6 separate regions of the Homo sapiens genome follow, and all the other regions are reported to be linked to region 6. The links are microRNA targets in miRTarBase. Many come from high-throughput screens and were not tested one by one. Region 6 holds a microRNA gene; each other region holds the end of a gene's coding sequence.

The links. The annotated mature microRNA hsa-miR-6749-3p reads CUCCUCCCCUGCCUGGCCCAG and lies in region 6 at 987-1,007, shown strand. An mRNA with a match to its seed (bases 2 to 7 or 8) in the 3' UTR can be bound and repressed. Matches are read on the target gene's strand: a 7mer-m8 pairs with bases 2 to 8, a 7mer-A1 pairs with bases 2 to 7 and ends in A, and an 8mer does both.
Region 1: miRTarBase lists CASTOR2 as a target of hsa-miR-6749-3p. Seed matches in the 3' UTR shown: 7mer-m8 at 936-942 and 7mer-m8 at 2,886-2,892.
Region 2: miRTarBase lists PLGRKT as a target of hsa-miR-6749-3p. The part of its 3' UTR that is shown has no 7-base or 8-base seed match.
Region 3: the mRNA of PRR15 is a reported target of hsa-miR-6749-3p. Seed matches in the 3' UTR shown: 8mer at 888-895.
Region 4: miRTarBase lists NOL9 as a target of hsa-miR-6749-3p. Seed matches in the 3' UTR shown: 7mer-m8 at 974-980.
Region 5: miRTarBase lists LRRC3C as a target of hsa-miR-6749-3p. The part of its 3' UTR that is shown has no 7-base or 8-base seed match.

What each region holds. Positions count from the first base shown.
Region 1 is chr7:75,024,468-75,027,577 of GRCh38, forward strand. CASTOR2 (cytosolic arginine sensor for mTORC1 subunit 2) reads left to right here. Exons shown (of 9, transcript NM_001145064.3): 8 at 1-67; 9 at 167-3,110. The coding sequence ends at 232. It also overlaps a transcript of RCC1L not described here. Among named protein-coding and RNA genes, the nearest start is that of RCC1L, 48 kb to the right of the region's middle.
Region 2 is chr9:5,355,609-5,358,729 of GRCh38, forward strand. It overlaps PLGRKT (plasminogen receptor with a C-terminal lysine), which reads right to left. Exons shown (of 6, transcript NM_018465.4): 6 at 2,363-2,752. The coding sequence ends at 2,631. Among named protein-coding and RNA genes, the nearest start is that of RLN1, 17 kb to the left of the region's middle.
Region 3 is chr7:29,566,287-29,569,407 of GRCh38, forward strand. It overlaps PRR15 (proline rich 15), which reads left to right. Exons shown (of 2, transcript NM_175887.3): 2 at 1-1,007. The coding sequence starts at 44. The coding sequence ends at 433. Among named protein-coding and RNA genes, the nearest start is that of PRR15, 4.0 kb to the left of the region's middle. RefSeq lists an enhancer at 1-35.
Region 4 is chr1:6,523,219-6,526,218 of GRCh38, reverse strand. It overlaps NOL9 (nucleolar protein 9), which reads left to right. Exons shown (of 12, transcript NM_024654.5): 12 at 216-3,000. The coding sequence ends at 365. Among named protein-coding and RNA genes, the nearest start is that of NOL9, 30 kb to the left of the region's middle.
Region 5 is chr17:39,944,415-39,947,535 of GRCh38, forward strand. It overlaps LRRC3C (leucine rich repeat containing 3C), which reads left to right. Exons shown (of 4, transcript NM_001195545.2): 4 at 1-585. The coding sequence ends at 320. Among named protein-coding and RNA genes, the nearest start is that of GSDMA, 17 kb to the right of the region's middle.
Region 6 is chr11:64,900,273-64,903,393 of GRCh38, reverse strand. It overlaps MIR6749 (microRNA 6749), which reads left to right and starts at 939; the gene lies at 939-1,007. ATG2A (autophagy related 2A) reads left to right here. Exons shown (of 41, transcript NM_015104.3): 26 at 30-106; 27 at 714-878; 28 at 1,008-1,134; 29 at 1,218-1,432; 30 at 2,302-2,510; 31 at 2,765-2,900. RefSeq lists an enhancer at 2,944-3,073.

The sequences.
Region 1 (3,110 bases), not on the chromosome of region 6:
AGAGCCCTTGGCTGCTGCAGACATCCCAGCCTACTACATCAGTACTTTCAAGTTTGATCATGCACTTGTGAGTGTCCAGCGCCAGACCCCTCCAGGGCAGGGCCGGGGTGGGGAAGCAGGTTCCTGGGCTCACGGGCAGGCATCTGCCTCCTCTACCCCTGCACAGGTCCCCGAAGAGAACATCAATGGTGTCATCAGTGCCCTGAAGGTCAGCCAAGCAGAGAAGCACTAGAAGGGTCTCTTCTGCTCCTCCCTGCCGCCGCCCGGGCCCAGCCCTAACCCTGAAGATTGATCTTGCAGTATTTCTCTACAGACTGGAAAATCAGCCTGGGGACCCTGAGGAAGGGGCCTCTGTGGGAGACTCCCTCGATTGCCAATCCCTCCAGGGCAGGGGCCCACGCCAAGGCCTCTCCATGCCCTCCTGCCTTCCCGGAGCCCCCCGACCCTCCAGAGAACGACCTTTCTCTTCCCTACCTCCCCCACCCCGGAAAATGCTTTCGGAGGCCCAGGGAGCTTGTGAGCTGATCCGCCTTCTCATCCGGCCTCACCCACGGCCAGGGGCAGATGCCGAGGGAAGCCGGTCCCTCCTGCGAGACACCGGTGTGCCAGCTGTCATGTCACCTTGCAGGGCTGGGGCTGGCGGGGTGGGGCCGAGTTTGGGGTGCCCTGGAGGGTTTGGGGGTGAGTACTGTGGTCACTGGTCTCTGCTTCCATCAGCTCAGGGCTGGTTCCCTCGGAGTGGAGGCCAGCGTGGCCCCCTCAGGTCATCGGGGCTGGTGAGGCTCAGACAGGAACCCAGGTGGGATCCCCGAGCTGGGAAGGACCCAGACTCCCCCTGTACCTCGCCTGCCAACCACAGGGCCTGGGCCCGACTCCCAGCAAGACTGCCAAGAGGGCCCTGTCCAGACCCTCCCCCACAAGCACTCAGTCCTTGGGGGAGGAGGGAGGGTCCCAGGAGACCCACCAGCCTGGAGCACCAGCTCCTGTCCCCTCGGCTCTCCCTGGACCCGACTTGGGCAGGTAGAGCCTCAGCTTCCCCCAGTAGGGACATCCCTGGCTTTCCAGGCCTGAGGTTTCTTAGGTGGTGTCCCACCTCCCCAACAGACAACTAGACCAGCATAGGACTCCCCGCCGTCCTCCTCCCTCCTCTGCCCCCAAGTCACCTGCCTGCCCACCCGCCCCTTGGCTGGGGGCTGTGGCATTCATGAGTACTTGACCCAGGAGGCAGCTTAACTGAGCCTTAATAGAGAAAACCATACTTTGTTTTAGTTTTTTATTTAATGTATTTGCACCCAGGGTGCTCTTGGCGGTAGTTTCTGTTTGGCAGGGATAGGACCTGTTTGAGTTCTGTCAAGGGAGCCTGGAGGCTCTGTGTCACTAAGCTGGTGCTCTGTGGCTCCAGGGACAGGCAGTGGGAATCGGGAGATGTCACAGGAGCCTGGGCCCTCTCTTCTGAAGGGAAGCTAGGAGCAGAGATCTGTTACAAGACGCTGGAGCCGCTGGCACCCCACATGGGAACTCCCACCAACCAGCTGTAGTTCTATCTGAGCACCGGAGGGGGTGAGGGAACCCGAGGGCCATGGGGAGGTGGACAGCCAGGTGGCAGGCCAGCTGAGTGGTCATGTCCAGGAGGCATGGGGTTAGCCGTGGTGTCCCTTCCAGTGGGGTGGTTTTCTGAATGAGCAGGACCAAGGGCCCCTGTGGTTTTGGCTCTGGCGGGGGTTTTTTTTTTTTTTTTTGAGATGGGAGTCTGGCTCTGTTGCCTAGGCTGGAATGCAGTGGCACGATCTTGGCTCACTACACCCTCCTCCTCCCAGGTTCAAGTGATTCTCCTGCCTCGGCCTCCCAAGTAGCTGGGATTACAGGCACGCACCACCACGTCTGGCTAGTTATTGTATTTTTTAATAGAGACGGGATTTCGTAACATTGCTCAGGCTGGTCTTGAACTCCTGAGTTAAGTGATCCGCCTGCCTCGGCCTCCCAAAATGCCGGGATTACAGGCGTGAGCCACCACACCCAGCCGAGTTGTGCTGTTTCTGTGGTCAGAGGAGAAGGGATATTTTCTAGTCCTGACAAAGTGTTCCCTGCTTCTCTGAGTGGGACCCTCTGAGCCCTGGAAGCCCACCAGAAGGAGAAGCTGTTCTTTAAAATCCTTGTGGGTGTTGAAGGCCCACCACATTAATTAGAAACCAACTTTTTTTTTTTTAAGTTAATTTGTTTTGCACAAAACTCCAGAACAAAACTCGTACATTGCTGGTCCCAAAAGGGAGGTGGCCAAGTGGGGCAGGGCTGTGGTGGAAGCCCTGAGTCCCCTTTCTGACCTTGCAAGGCCTTGATTTTCCTTTCTGTCATTTCCCCCTGACGGTGTCACTTCTCTGCCTTTCCTTCCCGCCGTGCAAGTGTGTCGGCCCCGTGACCCCAGAGTCGTGTGTCCCCTAGACTTCCTAGGACGTATCTATTGTACACACCTATAAATACCTGTGTTTTATGTTGATAGAGATATATACTGTAAATAGCATATATACTTGAGCAATATATATGTTAATATATACTGTGTGCGCAGTCCGTGGACACAGCCCCCCGCTGTGTGTGCACACGTGTATGGGCGTGATGGCCTCCACCCCGCACCGTCTGCCATACACGCGGGCACATTTGAGCCACCATATATTTTTAATTCAAGTATATAGGCAATACGATTATTACAGAAGCCGATGGGTTCCCTCAGACCTGACTTGAGAGAACAAAGCCAGCAGCTCAAAGAGCCTGTGACATGGGACGTGGGAAGGGTGCTGAGAGCCCGCTGTGGCGTGGGTCATGCCTTCTGCACCCCACTTTCCCCAGGCAAGATCCCTGGGCGCCCTTATTTGGGGGGATGTTGATCCCGAGGGAGGAGTATTTGGAATTTCTTGCTTTTAACCAGAATGCCCCCTCTCCCCTGCCCTCGCCAGCAGCCTCACCCTGAAGACCTGGGCCTGCTGAATGGGCCACACGCTGCCTGTGTCCTGCCTCCGTGGGTGGCACTTTTTACGCAGGCAGCTTCTCTGTTTTTTTTGTTTTTTGTAACCTGCAAGCTTAGAAATCTCAGGTTGTGCTCCTGGGGCTGCTCCTGG
Region 2 (3,121 bases), not on the chromosome of region 6:
TTTATTTCCTCATTCTTCTTGCAATATCACAAAAGTTTGTGATGATTATAAGCTAGTTTCTTATAGAAGACCATATAAGTTTCAGTATTTGGAAACATCAGATGTCTAGTTGGTAATTAGGGATTAATCATAAGCATAAATAAATATTTAATTAATATAAATGAAGAAATAGCTCAGAAGCATCACAGCAGAAATGTTTTTCCTTTCAACAAAAGGACAATGTAATAATGAGAGGAAAAGCTTTGGATAATCAGCAGTTATAACACTGAAAAATGTTACAACATACTTGTGCTGCATGGTCATTTTTAATAGCTCCACTTTGATTTTTGCCTCACTATACAATTGGGAGCAAACAACAGTATGAGTGTAAGTGTGTGCGTATGTTTTTCAGCAGGGCCTCTACTGAGGTAGAATTATTAATAAACTCAGTGTCAGTGCCAGAGGAAGAAGCCAAGAAGCCAATACAATTGAACAGCCTGGTGTTCTTAAGGGGGCCCAGGGCCTGGCTATGTTGCCAGCAATGAAAATCCCAGATAAGGTCTTGAGCCGATCAGCCTTTGCAGAGGCATCAAACCTACTCTTGGTGAGCTCTGGCTAGACTATATCAGGAACATTTGAATAGCATGATTGAATTGTGGGGAAAGAAATACAATTCCAGATTCTGGTGTGACCTACAACCAGCACTAGGTCTTGGGCATTCATGAGTCCACCAGTGTTCCTCCCAGTACTTCTTCTTTCCCATGTTCTCTAGGGGCCTTAGATAATCCACACAGATTAAAAATGCAGGGAAAACAACTCCCACTCTGTGACCTCAAACTGGTTTCCTGGTACTGCTATTCTCTATTTTCATAATCTTGAGTCCATTCCCAAGGCTGTAGCCTTAATTCAGGCCACTGGTCAGCACTCAGATGGATCATTGCAGCTCCTCATTACTTGGGATCTGGGATCTTTCCCCTCTAATCTACAAATTTGGGTAAAAATCCCGTTTTGCATTCTTTCACTGCTATCACCCTCAGGAAAGAGTCCAAACTGCTTGCTGTTACATCCAAGGCTCTTCAGGAATTGAATTGTACTTCCACCAGGATCATTTCTGAAAAAGTCTCCCACATGAGGAACCCCTTGCTGCAGCCAAATTGAATGACCTGCAGCAATTCCTTGGATTTGGCTTGCACGGTCCTGCCTTTGTTCAAGCTGCTTCTCCTGCTTGGGGCACCCTTCCTCTTCAATGTTTACCTTCATGGAGAACTTCTATGCATCCTTCAAGACTTGGCTCAAGTTTCTCTAAAGCTAAAATTGTAACAAAACACATGTTGATACGTTGTCAGCTCCTTGAAGGTAGGGACCACATCATATTCATGCTTGTTCCTACCTTAATATTTAATCTCCTATTATTCTTCCTGGGCTTCTTTCTATTATTTGGCCATGCCATGTCTCAGTTCAAATGTCACCTCTGCAAAGAGGCAGTGTCTGCAGTACCGATCTAAAGTAGCACCACCTCATTAACCCAATCATTCTCTTATCACTCTGTTTCATTTCCACTGAAGCATTTGCCAGGATTAGAAATGATCTTATTTATCTTGATGTTAATTTGTTGCCCGCCCCAATTATCCCACCCCTCACTAGAATATATTCCTCTGCCCAGGATATAGGACATTGTCTACTTATTCACCGATGTAGCTCTAGTGTCTACAACAGTGCCTGGCACAAAGTAGTATCAATAAATCTCTTTGGAATGAGCATATTATATGTAGGGTTCGCATCTGAAGAAATACTTATATATAGGAGTATTTTATGAGGAGTTTTCCCAGTGAGTCTAAATAAAAAGGCAGTCATCCAAATCTACCTCTCTCTTGTTTCCACCTCTCTAGCAACTATGCCCTGAGTCATTATTTGAATGTTGTTACCTTTTCCCTTTTATAGCTTTTCTTTGCAGGTTAAGCATCAGTTAAGGCCTTGTCAAGGCCTTTTAGAGCACAGCCACTGGAGCCACACTTGTTCAAATCCAAGCCCTGGCCAAGTATGGCTTTGGCCCAGCCAAATTGGATGACCTGCAGCAACTTCTTGGATTTGGCTTGCGTGCTTCTGCCTTTGTTCAAGCTGCTTATCTGTGCTTCAGTTTCCACATTTATAAAATGATTCCTGCTTCATAAAATTATTGGGATGATTACAAGAATTTGTACAAAACACTCAGAACAGTGCCAGTCATAGAAAATGCAGTATATATGTTAGTCAAACAATACTGTTTTCTGTCATGTAGGGGCAGGACACAATTGACAAATCCAAAATACAGAAGCATCTGTGGAAATGGAATGTGGTATGGAAAGTATGTGTGACAGAGAAATGAGAGCAGCTGGGCATTTGCTTCCAGGAATTCAAAACAATTTATTAATTTTACACTTAGATATTGGTAATGCACACAGAGAGAGGAAATCTAAAAGTTATTTAGAGCACCTCCATGATTTTGTGTTGAATGTTATAAATTTTATTTTAAAATAGCTCAAAACTATCTTGCATTTTAATATTTTAAAATAAAATCTATAATATCAAAATCTTGAGCATTTAAAAAACTGTAAAAACCATGATTCAAGTCAATAATTCTGTGCTTTGAGATTTGATTGGTAAGCATGATTTCATTTGTCTATGAAGAATCTACTCTGTTCCTTTCTGGCTTTTTCAATGCTTTCAAAAGTGATCATTCCTCTTGGCAGCTGCAATTTACTCTTTTCTGTTTCCAGTATGTCCTCAGCTTCACCTTAAATAAAGTACAGAAATACACAAGGTGACAAAGGGGTCATCAGCAATTTGTGACAAAGCCTGATTGCTATATTCCTTGACAGGCTCTAACACCGTATGAGCCATGTCCCCAATCTCACACTTAAACATTTTCCTCAGGAGAAGTAATATACTTCCCAGAGGAAACACAGTGATGAATTCTGAACACCCATAAATAAATCAGGAGCTACAGATGGTATTTTTGACATGTAGAAGAGAAAGAACATCAAGATAAGTAATTTTTTCCCTTGAACCAAAGTCAGGATTCGTATTAATTCTGTTTGGAGGGATTTGGGTAGAGAAACCACACATAGTCTTTCCCATTGTCCTTTAATATAAGTGACAAGAG
Region 3 (3,121 bases), not on the chromosome of region 6:
GGCCCTTCCATCTGGGTGCCGGGAGCCCCTAGGCCCTCCGGCCATGGCCGACAGCGGCGATGCTGGCAGCTCCGGCCCCTGGTGGAAATCGCTCACCAACAGCAGAAAGAAAAGCAAGGAAGCCGCAGTGGGGGTGCCGCCTCCCGCCCAGCCCGCTCCCGGGGAGCCCACGCCACCTGCGCCGCCCAGCCCGGACTGGACCAGCAGCTCCCGGGAGAACCAGCACCCCAATCTCCTCGGGGGCGCCGGCGAGCCCCCCAAACCAGACAAGTTATACGGGGACAAATCCGGCAGCAGCCGCCGCAATTTGAAGATCTCGCGCTCCGGCCGCTTTAAGGAGAAGAGGAAAGTGCGCGCCACGCTGCTCCCGGAGGCGGGCAGGTCCCCGGAGGAGGCAGGCTTTCCTGGTGACCCCCACGAGGACAAGCAGTAGCCCCAATAGCCTGCGCGCTCCAGGACTGCCTACCCAGCACTACCCCAAACCCCCAGTTCCAAACCCGAGACTTCAGGCCCGCCCCCTTACGCGTTGTCTCATTCCACCAAATTCAGAATATTTACACAATGCCTTCATGATTTTATTTTTCTGGAAATTGAAGTGTCAATTGGGTTCTCAATATTTCATGACTCCAAGGATGCATTAAATATTTATTTGTGGTAAGAGAAGATACCTGCCGCGGAGGAGGGTGGCATAATTATTTTTTTTTCAAAAAGCTATTCTGGGGCCCTGGCCCCCTGGCTCCTGTCACAGCTCAGCTTGAACTCTGTAGCCTCTCAAATGAAGAAGGTGGCTGTTATTTAGGACTCTGTGGAAAGCAAATCACAGTGCTGTTTTTAATGCCTGAGAAATGCACTTTAGGGGTAGACTTATACCTTAAGTGAAGGAGTGGGGGAGGAAGAAGCATTCTTAAGTAGAAGCATTTTAAAATAAGGCAGGATTGCTTTTAATGTTAAACTACAAAACTGTACAGCCTATTTTAGTGTGGACTATTAAAACCCTTGCACTGTAAGGCTTAAGGTGACTTTTGTATTTTTTCCATTCCAAGACTGAATCCCATCATACTTAAAAGCAGGCAGGCAAAGTCCGAGGTGAGAGTTAATCATTTGCCACACAACATAACAGTGACTAGTGGAAAGCTGCAGGGAAGAGAATATTTCTGGAAACCAGCAACACCTGGACTGGAACTTGTTAGCCAGATATCCCTATTTATCAGCCAAATTCGAGGAAGGGAGAGAGGTACCAATTCATTATTCCTAAATTCACCTTTTACTTCAGTGCATTTTCATAGACTATAGTAAGTTACAATGCTAGTAATACATCCTTTTCAGTATCCATTGTTAAACTTACTAACGATTGTCTAAAATCAAAAAACAAGGCCAGGTACGGTGGCTGATGTCTGTAATGCCAGCACTTTGGGAGGCCTAGGAAGGTGGATCACCTGAGGTCAGGAGTTCAAGACCAGCCTGACCAAAAAGGTGAAACCCTGTCGCTACTAAAAATACAAAAATTAGCCGGGCGTGGTGGCAGGCACCTGTAGTCCCAGCTACTCGGGAGGCTGAGACAGGAGAATTGCTTGAACCTGGGAGACAGAAGTTGCAGTGAGCAGAGATCGTGCCACTGCACTCCAGCCTGGGCATCTGAAGGAGACTCCATCTCAAAAAAAAAAAAGACTGAACTCTGCGCAGCTAAAGAGGTGGGGGTATTTTCCCCACCCCTTTGCTTTAAAAGCTTATTTCCTTAAAGTATGCATTTATCTAGTTTCAGACCCTTTAGATCTAACAACCTGAAGATTCTTAACAAAAAGCTGTTCGCTTTTATTATGAACTTCAAGAAAAAGAGTAAACGAATACCATTTGCTTTGAGAAAATTACAAGAGAGTTATTGTAGTCGTTAAGAGGCACTGGGATCTTTTCCCACCACAATTCAGTTCATTTATAAACACCCAGAAATGCATGGCAGGAAAATTATATTGATCAAAGTGTATATCTTTGTAGATAATGACAAGCAGGAACTTAATTATAGCTTCTCGATTTGTATATGTAGACAAGCTATTTTTTTGTTTCTCCCAAATTAGTAATTTATAAAGTAGCAAAACAGTTCGATTGTTAAAAGAAATTTAACAAAGAAATTTGATGAAGATGGCTGAAATGAATTTAAATTAATGAATCAAGCTTTGGTGCCAGCAGAATAATACAGCTAATTTTGATACATGAGTTTCCACATACCAAAGGCCTTACACTAAAGGAAAGTGTATATCTAGAGGTTATGAACACCTTAAATTAAAAGAAAGTATGTGAGAGGACTTTTTTAAGCATGAAAAGACATTTTCATTGTATACGTAAAACTGGAAAGTGTGTGACCAAAATCTCATCCAGGTGGGCTTCCTGGATGAGGCAGACTACATTCAGTTTAAATGGGCCTACCATCTCTAGATTCAGAAAAAGAAGAGGGAATTGAGACTTGGCATGAAAAAAGAATTCATGATAAGGGACAGGATTGGGGGTTGGCAGAGCAACGGGAGTGAATATAGCAAATGTTGTCAAATAAGGCTTTGGAAAACCTTCAAAAAGTATTTCAATTTCACTCCGTAGAAAGTAATCAAAATTAGAGTAGGTAACTACCCAAAATGTTCTCTCCCTCCTTCAGGAAGACCGATAGATCAGGACTGTACCTATTTATAAAATTAAGTCTGCAATTACATAAGTTTAAAATCCTATACTAACCCTTTCATCCAGTTTTATTGTTTTAAAGAACTTTTTTCTTTAAAATTACTGTAGATGAACAAAACATTGGCAAGTTTCAAGGTTCTGTGTCTAATTTTGGATCCCATCCAAATCTACAATTGCTGCAGATAATCAATAGCAGACATATAGTAGAGCAATGGAACTTATTACCATATTAACATGACATCTTTACCCCACTGTTCTGAAAGAATTTAAAACCATACTAATGCAGTTATGACAGTGAATGCAATTCACAATCTGCCATTGAGGTTTGTAATTACATCGTTTTAAAGCAGTCCTAAATTATGCAGTGGGAGGAATACACTGATTTAATCCCAACTCAGTGAAATCAGAAACCAAGCAAAATTGGTGGGACAGAAAGAGCATAAGGAAGATGAGA
Region 4 (3,000 bases), not on the chromosome of region 6:
TTGATGGAATGGGACAGAAGGGAGGCCTTGGCACGTTTGTTACCGAGCCAGTTGATTAAAGGGGGCTCTGAAGGAAGGGATCAAATGCCTTAAAAGTGAGAAGTCCCCACCCAGACCATCACCATGACACTGCCTTCTAGGTGTGAGAGAGCACTGTAAACCCCTCTGGGCTGGACCTGGAGTGTTTCCATGCATTCTCTGTGTTTCCGTTTCAGCGTGGGATCGAAGGGACAGTACCTTATGTCACAACGGATTACAATTTTAAACTTCCTGGAGCATCAGAGAAAATTGGAGCAAGAGAACCTGAGGAGGCACATAAAGAGAAACCATACCGAAGACCTAAGTTCTGTCGAAAAATGAAGTGATGCTCGCGTTTTTAATAAGGGAAGAAACTTTCCTACCAGAAAGCTTTGTCTCAAGCCTGACCACAAGAGACATGATGGAGTTTCATGGCCATGAATGGTGCCCTTATTAGCAACAGTGTTTTTTGTGTAATTCGTGAATGTCATATAGTAGTCTTAAGTTTCTCTTTTAAAGCTGCATGAGCTAGAATTTGTTCTAGTCTTCTGTGTGATACTCATACTTGCTGTCCAGAGGGAGTAAAACAGCAGAGAACAGTTTGTGTGCCATTAAAACAGAGATTCCTCAGAAAGTTCTTCAGGGACCTGGTTATTAGAATCAGGATAAAAATAAGGAAACTGGGGCCATTACAATGTACCGAGAAGGAAGGAAGAAGGCCGACCTGCAGGATCTCAAGCATAATGGATACAAGGGCTCGCCACGGGCCTTGCCTGAGCCATGTGCAGAGCTGGGGTCCAGCGGTCTGCTTCCTTGGAGCCAGTGTGGATGGTTACAGCCCATCCATTTGGTGCAGTTGTACTTGGTCTGTTATATTCAATCAAGGTTTAATAGATAGGGCTGGGCATGGTGGCTCATGCACACCTGTAATCCTAGCACTTTGGGAGGCTGAGGCGGGAGGATTGCTTGAGCCTCGGAGTTCCAGGCTGGAGTACACCAACTACTCCAGCCTGAGCGACAGAGTAAGACCTTATCTTTTAAAAAAGAAAAGAAAAATTTAAACGGGTTTGATAGATATAAATTTGGACCCAAGAGCCCTTCCTTTTTTTTAATCCTGAGGTTTTATGCTGAGGAAATTTCTTTCAAATCTGGAAAACCTCGGGGCCAGGCGCAGTGGCTCACGCCTGTAATTCCAGCACTTTGGGAGGCCAAGGCAGGCGGTTCACGAGGTCAGGAGATTGAGACCATCCTGGCTAACACAGTGAAACTCCGTCTCTACTAAAAATACAAAAAACTAGCTGGGCGTGGTGGTGGGCGCCTATAGTCCCAGCTACTCAGGAGGCTGAGGCAGGAGAATGGCATGAACCCAGGAGGCGGAGCTTGCAGTGAGCCGAGGTCACGCCACTGCACTCCAGCCTGGGCAACAAGAGCAAGACTCCATCTCAAAAAAAAAAAATAATAATCTGGAAAACCTCTTCTGGGGGCTCTTATAAAAGTAGATTTGTCCAAATTGACTTCTGATCTGAGGCCAGAGACAACCACAGGGCAGAGCTGGAGACTGGGCTGTTTTGAAGGAAGAAGGACTGGCAGACCAGCTCTTGGGAAAGCTCCATTATTGCCTGTGGGAGGCTGGACCTGAACTTGCACCTATGAACAACCCTGCCATTTAGAGCTTTTTCCTGGGGGTGCCGGCGGCTGGTGACCAGACTGCCATTCTCCACGTTCTCCCTGGTGCTTCCGACTCTGTCCTCTAGGTTGGAAGTGGTTTGTGTAAACGGGTGATGGGACCAGGTCACATCATTTCTGCATTTAAGACAGCAGGATACTTCCTGGGGCTGAGGTTCAAACTGGTATTGTGACCACCGCTTTGACAGAATTCCATCTTCCCAGCATGATCACATTGTAAGACTATTAGGATGTGTGGGTTTTAACACTTATATACACTTATACAACTGTTGGTTATCATTGTCTTTAGTATTTTACAGTGGCCCCTCAGCACCTCTTAGACCCAACAGCAAAGGACTTAAAATAAGCACAGGAAACCTTGCTATGGTGATTAGTTTTGATACCTTTGAGACAATTGAGTCTAGCTTCTTAGTTGCCCCTTATTTATGTTGAAATCTGGCTCATTCATATGATGTTTTACTGTGCTGGCCTTGTAAAGAATTTTAAGACAATCCATCACCATCAATGTTTTGCCTTTCTCCACTTTCGTGTATCTTACAGTTATACTCACTGGAGGTCATTTGCAGCAAGGCTCTGGAAGAATGAAACTGGTGCCCTGTAATTGCATTTGCATTCAATCTAGGTTTGCCTTCAGGCTTTAAATGCGGCCTGTATGAAGGTCAAGTCTTTTTCTTCAGTCCCTATCAGTAAAGAAAAATCGTTGCCTCTAGAGGGAGCTATCAGCTGTGGGTCAGGTGGCCGTACTGGGGCTAGAGTTGGCCCAGGAAGCTGTACAGGGTTTAGGGAAGGAGGTTCGGAGACAGGGAGCCAAGGCCTCTGTCAGGTCTAGCTTGTGCCGGTCAGACCTGCAGCAGCACCATTCTCCAGGATGACAATTCATCCCATTATTGATGGCAGTGGCCTTTTTATCCTTTTTTTTTTTTTTTTTTTTTTTTGAGATGGAGTTTCGCTCTTGTTGCCCAGGCTGGAGTGCAGTGGCGCAATCTGGGCTCACTGCCACCTCCGCCTCCCGGGTTCAAGTGATTCTCTTGCCTCAACCTCCCGAGTAGCTGGGATTACAGGCATGCGCCACCATGCCTGGCTGATTTTCTATTTTTAGTAGAGAAGGGGTTTCACCATGTTGGCCAGGCTGGTTTTGAACTCCTGTCCTCAGGTGATCCACCTGCCTTGGCCTCCCAAAGTGTTGGGATTACAGGCATGAGCCACCGCACCCGGCTGGTGGCAGTGGCTTTAAGGGCATTTAGAAGAAGGACAAGATTGGACTTTTTATCATTTCCACAGTCTGTTATGGGTCAG
Region 5 (3,121 bases), not on the chromosome of region 6:
AAGTGCTCCGGCAGGTGAGGCTGGTGCCGGGCACTGGGACAGGCATCGTGTGTGGCTCAGGAGCCCGACCGGACCTCGTGGGGCAGGAGTTCCTGCTGCTGGCAGGGGAGGAAGAGCTGTGTGGGTCGGGGTGGGGTGGGGCCCGGAGGAGCACCGATGTGGCCCTGCTGGTCACCATGGGGGGCTGGCTGACACTCATGGTGGCTTATCTGGTGCATTATGTGTGGCAGAACCGAGATGAGACCAGGCGCTCCCTCAAGCGGGCCCCAGTGCTGCCCGTGCGTTCCGAGGACTCCTCCATCCTCAGCACAGTGGTCTGATGACCCAGGATGCTCCTCCAGCCACACCCCACACTCCTGCCCCTATGCCCTCTCCTTTGCTCTGACCCCCTCTGCCTCCTGTGCAGCTTCACCCCTGCCCCCAAGCCCATCCCACCCCTCCCTCCTTTATTCCCCCTAAATACCTGTGCTGGTTCTCTCTCTCTCTCTCTGTGTCGTCTTAACCAACACCATCTTTGGTGCCTGGAGTTTTTTGGTGCCTACTCTGTGCCTGGATTGTGCTAGACTCAGAAAACCCATAACAGAGAATGACAGCAGGTGGGGTGGGAGCAAGGGAGGAGGGGCTGTGGGGGGGCAGGTTGAGGAGGGAGCCTGCACCTGGCCCAGGGCGATTTCAAAGGCTTCGCTGTAGGATGTTTGAACTGATTCTTTTTTTTTTGAGATGGAGTCTCACTGTGTCAGCAGACTGGAGTGCAGTGGCAGGATCTCCGCTCACTGCAACCTCTGCCTCCCAGGTTCAAGTGATTCTCCTGCCTCAGCCTCCTGAGTAGCTGGGACTACAGGCGCGCGCCACCACGCCCAGCTAATTTTTGTATTTTTTAGTAGAGTTGGGGTTTCACCATGTTGGCCAGGATGGTCTTGATCTCTTGACCTCGTGATCTGCCCGCCTTGGCCTCCCAAAGTGCTAGGATTACAGGCGTGAGCGCGCCAGGCCCGAACTGACTCAGGTGGGTGGATCACCCAAGGCAGCACGCAACGTGAACCCCTTGGGCGATTACAGGCCCACACAGCCCGTCCACCACCAGCTTCTTCCTGCCCTACAGAGCTGAGGCCTGGAGTGGCAGAGAAAGCCAAGGGTACCCTGAGGGAGCCCCCAGCTGAGGGGGAGTGAAGCCCCACCCTTTCCTGAATTGGGCTCACAAACAGAGGCTTCGAGAGCGCAACTCTAAGACTGAGGTCTCCTACAGAGTGAGGGGCATCAAAGCGAGAGGCAACCCGGGGAGCTTATTCCAAAGGGAGGGACTGCCTCCCCCATTGGACTAAAGGGAGTTCAAACTGCTAGAAATGATTTTGCCTTAGGTCTCTGAGAATCTGCCATCATCAACCTCTCTTACCTCCAAGGAACCCATCTCTACTAAAAATACAAAAAATCAGCCGGGCGTGGTGGCAGGCACCTGTAATCCCAGCTACTCATGAGGCTGAGGCAGGAGAATCACTTGATCCCAGGAGGTTGAGGTTGCAGTGAGCTGAGATCACACCACTGCACTCCAGCCTGGGCCACAGATCGAGACCTTCTCTAAAAAAAAAAAAAAAAAGAACAGGGAGAGCTTTGGACAGAAAAGCAAGAGCAGAGAAGGCCCCTAGATGAAAGGTGTGGACAAGGCAAGGAAGATGTGCAACAACTCAGAATGTCTGGGCAGCAGCAAGACTCACCCTGGGGCTGGAAGAGAGGGTGCAAAGAGGGGCAAGGGGAAGGTGGGTGGAACCAAGCTGGAGGCGAGGTCAAAAGCCAGGCTGTGGCCAGATTTAAAAGGACACTGTGGGCTCCTCCTGTCTTCTCCCTCCGCCTCTACTGAGAGCCTCCCCTGGCTTCTTGCTTCTCTTGTCCCCAGGCTCCTCTTCCTCCTGTGCCCTCTACTGAGGATCCCCTCCTCCGACTCAAGGTCCCTAACCAGAGACTCCCTATTTCTCTCCGTCCTCTCCTTTATACACTGATTAGTTTCCTGAGCTCCTTCTTCTGGGGGGAAGGTGGTCTCCTCTATGACTGAGCTGGGGATGGGTGACTGCAGAGCTGGGGGAAGTAAGGAGACCCTGGACAACTCAATAAAGTCACTTTTATCAATGCTCCGATCTCGTATTGCTCATTTTCCTGGGCACCTGTGGCCTGTTGGTGAAGAGAACGGGTGCTGAGCTTGTCTTCAGCCCCTCCACCACCCCTTTGGTCGGGGGTGCTCCTGCTGGGCTGGAGGCCAGCTTCCCATCTCCCCTTCTGCTCCCCAGCCCCTGCCACCAGAGTCCATCTGCTGGACTGGCCAGGACTGTGCCGACACACTCAGAGCGGCTCCTGCATGGAACGACTGCCCCAGAATCCCGGACTGCTCCCTCTGCATCCTGACCCCGGGCTTGTGCTTGTCCACTGGGCAGGCAGGAGGGGGTGACGTAACTGGCTTCACTCCCATCCTCACCTCTGCCATGGACCAGGGATCACAGGACCCTGGGTTTTGAGAAACCACGGAAGCCTGGTGAGGCAGCTGGACAGCCTCGGTGATGTTGCCCGCATCTGCCCTTCTGCCTGGGACAGAGGGAGAGAAAAGGCACGCTCTTCTGGGAGACACACTGTGTCAGTCCCAAACTCTCCCACCAGGAAATGCTGGAACCTGGCTCAGGAACCAAGACAGCCCAGCCTACAGCTAACCCAGGCCTGAGGCAAGAGTTCCCGCGGCCTGGGCCCAGGTCCCAACTTGTCACCACATGCAGCATCAGGGAGCCAGTGGGCTGTGATGAGAGGAGAGGGAGAGGCCTAAAACTGCCTTTGCAAAATGATGACTGAGACAGTGAAAGAGATTTAACTTAACTGATTCCATCTTGCTTTTAACCTCCAAGCTGTCCCCGCTCATTCCTAGGCATAGGCTGAACTAACTTTGGGAAAAACTTAGTTTATAGTTTAAACAAAGACAGTAACAGCCCTTTCCCAAAGCAGACCTCCTTCTTGCCTGGGGACTAGATTGCCTTTGTAGAACTAACATTAGCCACAAGATCAGAAATTATGGTTTAGGAGTCGTGCCGCTGGAGGCTCCCTAAACTGCTCCGAAGATCAGGGCTTGAGATATTTTGCAGACCCT
Region 6 (3,121 bases):
ACAGGACCTTTCTCTCGCCTCTGCTGCAGATTATGTCTGTGTTTTGGATGTTGACCTCTTGGAACTTGTGATTAAAACCTGGAAAGGGAGCACCGAGGGCAAACTGGTGAGTGAGGCTGTCACTCTGGCTCCTGGAGCCACAGCAGGTGCAGGGGCCAAGGGAGTCTTCAGGGGCTGCTGCTCCCTCACGTGCCTGGGCTCCGGACACAGTTCATGCCTGCCCTTCCTGGGCTGCAGTTAGCGCCCCTCCTGCAAAGGGCCATAGTACAGCCCTGGTGGGGGTGTCCCTTGATGCTGGCTGAATGAATGAATGGGTTTCAGCCCTGCCACCAGAGGACGCGGCAGCCAGGGCACCAGCGAGGCCCTGGGAATCAGCCACCTTTGTAGGTCCCCGGATTCATCTCCTGTAAGATGGAGATAACCTGCCCTGCCTCGCTAGGCATGCAGAGCCCTTCACGGGGAGTGGGGTAGGGTGGGTGGGCACACTCCTGCTTCCTTGGATGGCCCTGGGCCAAGCCCCTTTCACCCTCTGGGTGAACAGTTTGTTCATCTGTTCAGTGGAGTTACTGGGCAGGTCATCCACTCCAGGAGAGACCATCCCTGTTCTGCCTGTGGCAGGATCAGAACTGCGGTGCCCTCCCAGCGAGCGGGTGGGGCCAGCAGGCAGTGGCCCCTGTGTTCACATAGCTGCTCCCCCCACCCCGCCCCTGCAGAGCCAGCCACTATTCGAGCTGCGCTGCTCCAACAATGTGGTACACGTGCACAGCTGTGCCGACTCCTGTGCCCTGCTGGTCAACCTGCTCCAGTACGTAATGAGCACAGGCGATCTGCACCCCCCACCCCGGCCCCCCAGCCCCACGGAGATCGCCGGCCAGAAGGTACAGGTGAGGCCTGGCCACACAGGCTACCAGAGCTCGGCCAGGCCCCTCCCCTGCCATGGCCCTCGGGCCTGGGGTTGGGGGAGCTCTGTCCTGTCTCACTCATTGCTCCTCCCCTGCCTGGCCCAGCTCTCGGAGAGTCCTGCCTCTCTGCCCTCGTGCCCCCCAGTGGAGACGGCCCTCATCAACCAGCGTGACCTGGCCGACGCCCTCCTGGACACCGAGCGCAGCCTACGGGAGCTGGCCCAGCCTTCAGGTGAAGTGGGGGTGCTGTGGGGACAGCAGACACAGTCAGGCACCCACTGTGGGCGCCTCTCCAAACTGGCCTCTCTCCTATAGGTGGCCACCTCCCTCAGGCGTCGCCCATCTCCGTCTACCTATTCCCAGGTGAACGGAGTGGGGCCCCACCCCCTTCACCACCTGTCGGGGGCCCTGCTGGCAGCTTAGGGTCATGCTCAGAGGAGAAGGAAGATGAAAGGGAAGAGGAGGGCGATGGAGACACCCTGGACAGTGATGAGTTCTGCATCCTTGATGCTCCCGGCCTGGGCATCCCGGTGCGTGGTGGGAGGGATGGACCAGTTTGCCGTCCAGGCAGGTGTGTTTGGAGCGGGGACGGAACACTCAGGGGTGGTTGCCTGGCCATCTGGAGCTCCCGTGGTGAGAGAAGCAGGCAGGAGGTGGTTGCCATCACCTCGGGGGTGGTGCTAGGTCTGTGCCACCCTAGGGAGGCAGCCCTGATGCTGGGCTTTGATGGAGTAGGGGGATTTCCAGAGGAAGAGGAGGCCTGGTGTTTTGGGCAGAGGGACTGGGAAATTCAAGGGATGGAGGAAGAGGAGAGGGCAGTTAGCAAGAGGGATGGAGAACCATGTGGCTGCAAGGGCCAGTGGGAATGTCTGAACTCACCCAGGTCTTAGGAGGCAGGGCTGGCAGGAGCCTGGCATTCTCAGGCTCCTCTTGGACAGACCACTCAGGCATAGACTCGGGTGATAGCAACCCAGGAGTGTCATCTTTCATCAAAAACAGGGAGGAGGCCAAGCATGGTAGGTTACGCCTGTAATCCCAGCAATTTGGGAGGTCAAGGTGGGAGAATTGCTTGAGTCCAGCAATGAGAGATTAGCCTGAGCAACATAGTGAGACCCCGTCTCTACAAAAAATAAAAATAAAATTAGCCAGATATGGTGGCACATGTCTGCAGTCCCTGCTACTCAGGAGGCTGAGAATGGAGGATCGCTTGAGCCTAGGAGGCAGAGGTTGCAGTGAACTGTGATTGTGCCACTGCACTCCAGCCTGGGTGACCGAACATGACCCGACCCTGTCTATAAAAAAAAAAAAATGAAAAAGAAGTGAGGCCAGGTTGCTGGGGCTGGGGGCAGCTGGGCTGGATCGAACATCTGTGTCACACGTCTACCTGGCCTCCCTGCAGCCCCGAGATGGGGAGCCTGTGGTGACACAGCTGCATCCCGGCCCCATCGTTGTGAGGGACGGTTACTTCTCACGGCCGATCGGCAGCACGGACTTGCTGCGGGCACCTGCCCATTTCCCAGTGCCCAGCACTCGGGTGGTGCTACGTGAGGTCTCCCTCGTCTGGCACCTCTATGGGGGCCGAGACTTTGGCCCCCACCCCGGCCACAGGTGAGGAGGAGCGGGTGCAGGTGGCAGCTGGTGAAGGTTGGGGCTCAGGCTGGTCCAGGTCTGACTTTCAGCAGCTGGAGACCTTGAGCCCCATCCACCCCAGGTGGGCCTCAGTTTCCTCATCCTTCCTTATCCCGCCTGCCTTCCAGGACTGGGGCTAGCGGGGGTCTCTTGTCCCAGGCTAAAAGGCCCGCTGAGGACGGGGAGGGAATGGGGTTCCTCTGAGTCAGCTTGGCCCCTGTCCCTCTTCCCAGGGCAAGAACTGGCCTCTCAGGTCCCAGGAGCTCCCCTTCCCGCTGCTCTGGCCCCAACCGGCCCCAGAACTCATGGCGCACGCAGGGGGGCAGCGGGCGGCAGCACCATGTCCTCATGGAGATCCAGCTGAGCAAGGTGAGTGGGGTGGCGAGTGCCTACTACACGTGTGTGTCATAGAACAACGGGCCTTGTTCTCGATGTCACGTGTAGCAATGACTAATGCAGAGGAAAACCCCTGCCTTTGTAGTGGAGGAAGCCAGGCAGGGACCAAGATGTATCGAGTGTGTCCGATGGTGAAGAGCGCTCAGGGGAGAGTCTGCAGGGGTGGAGGAGACAGGTGTGCTGGGGAGGGTCTG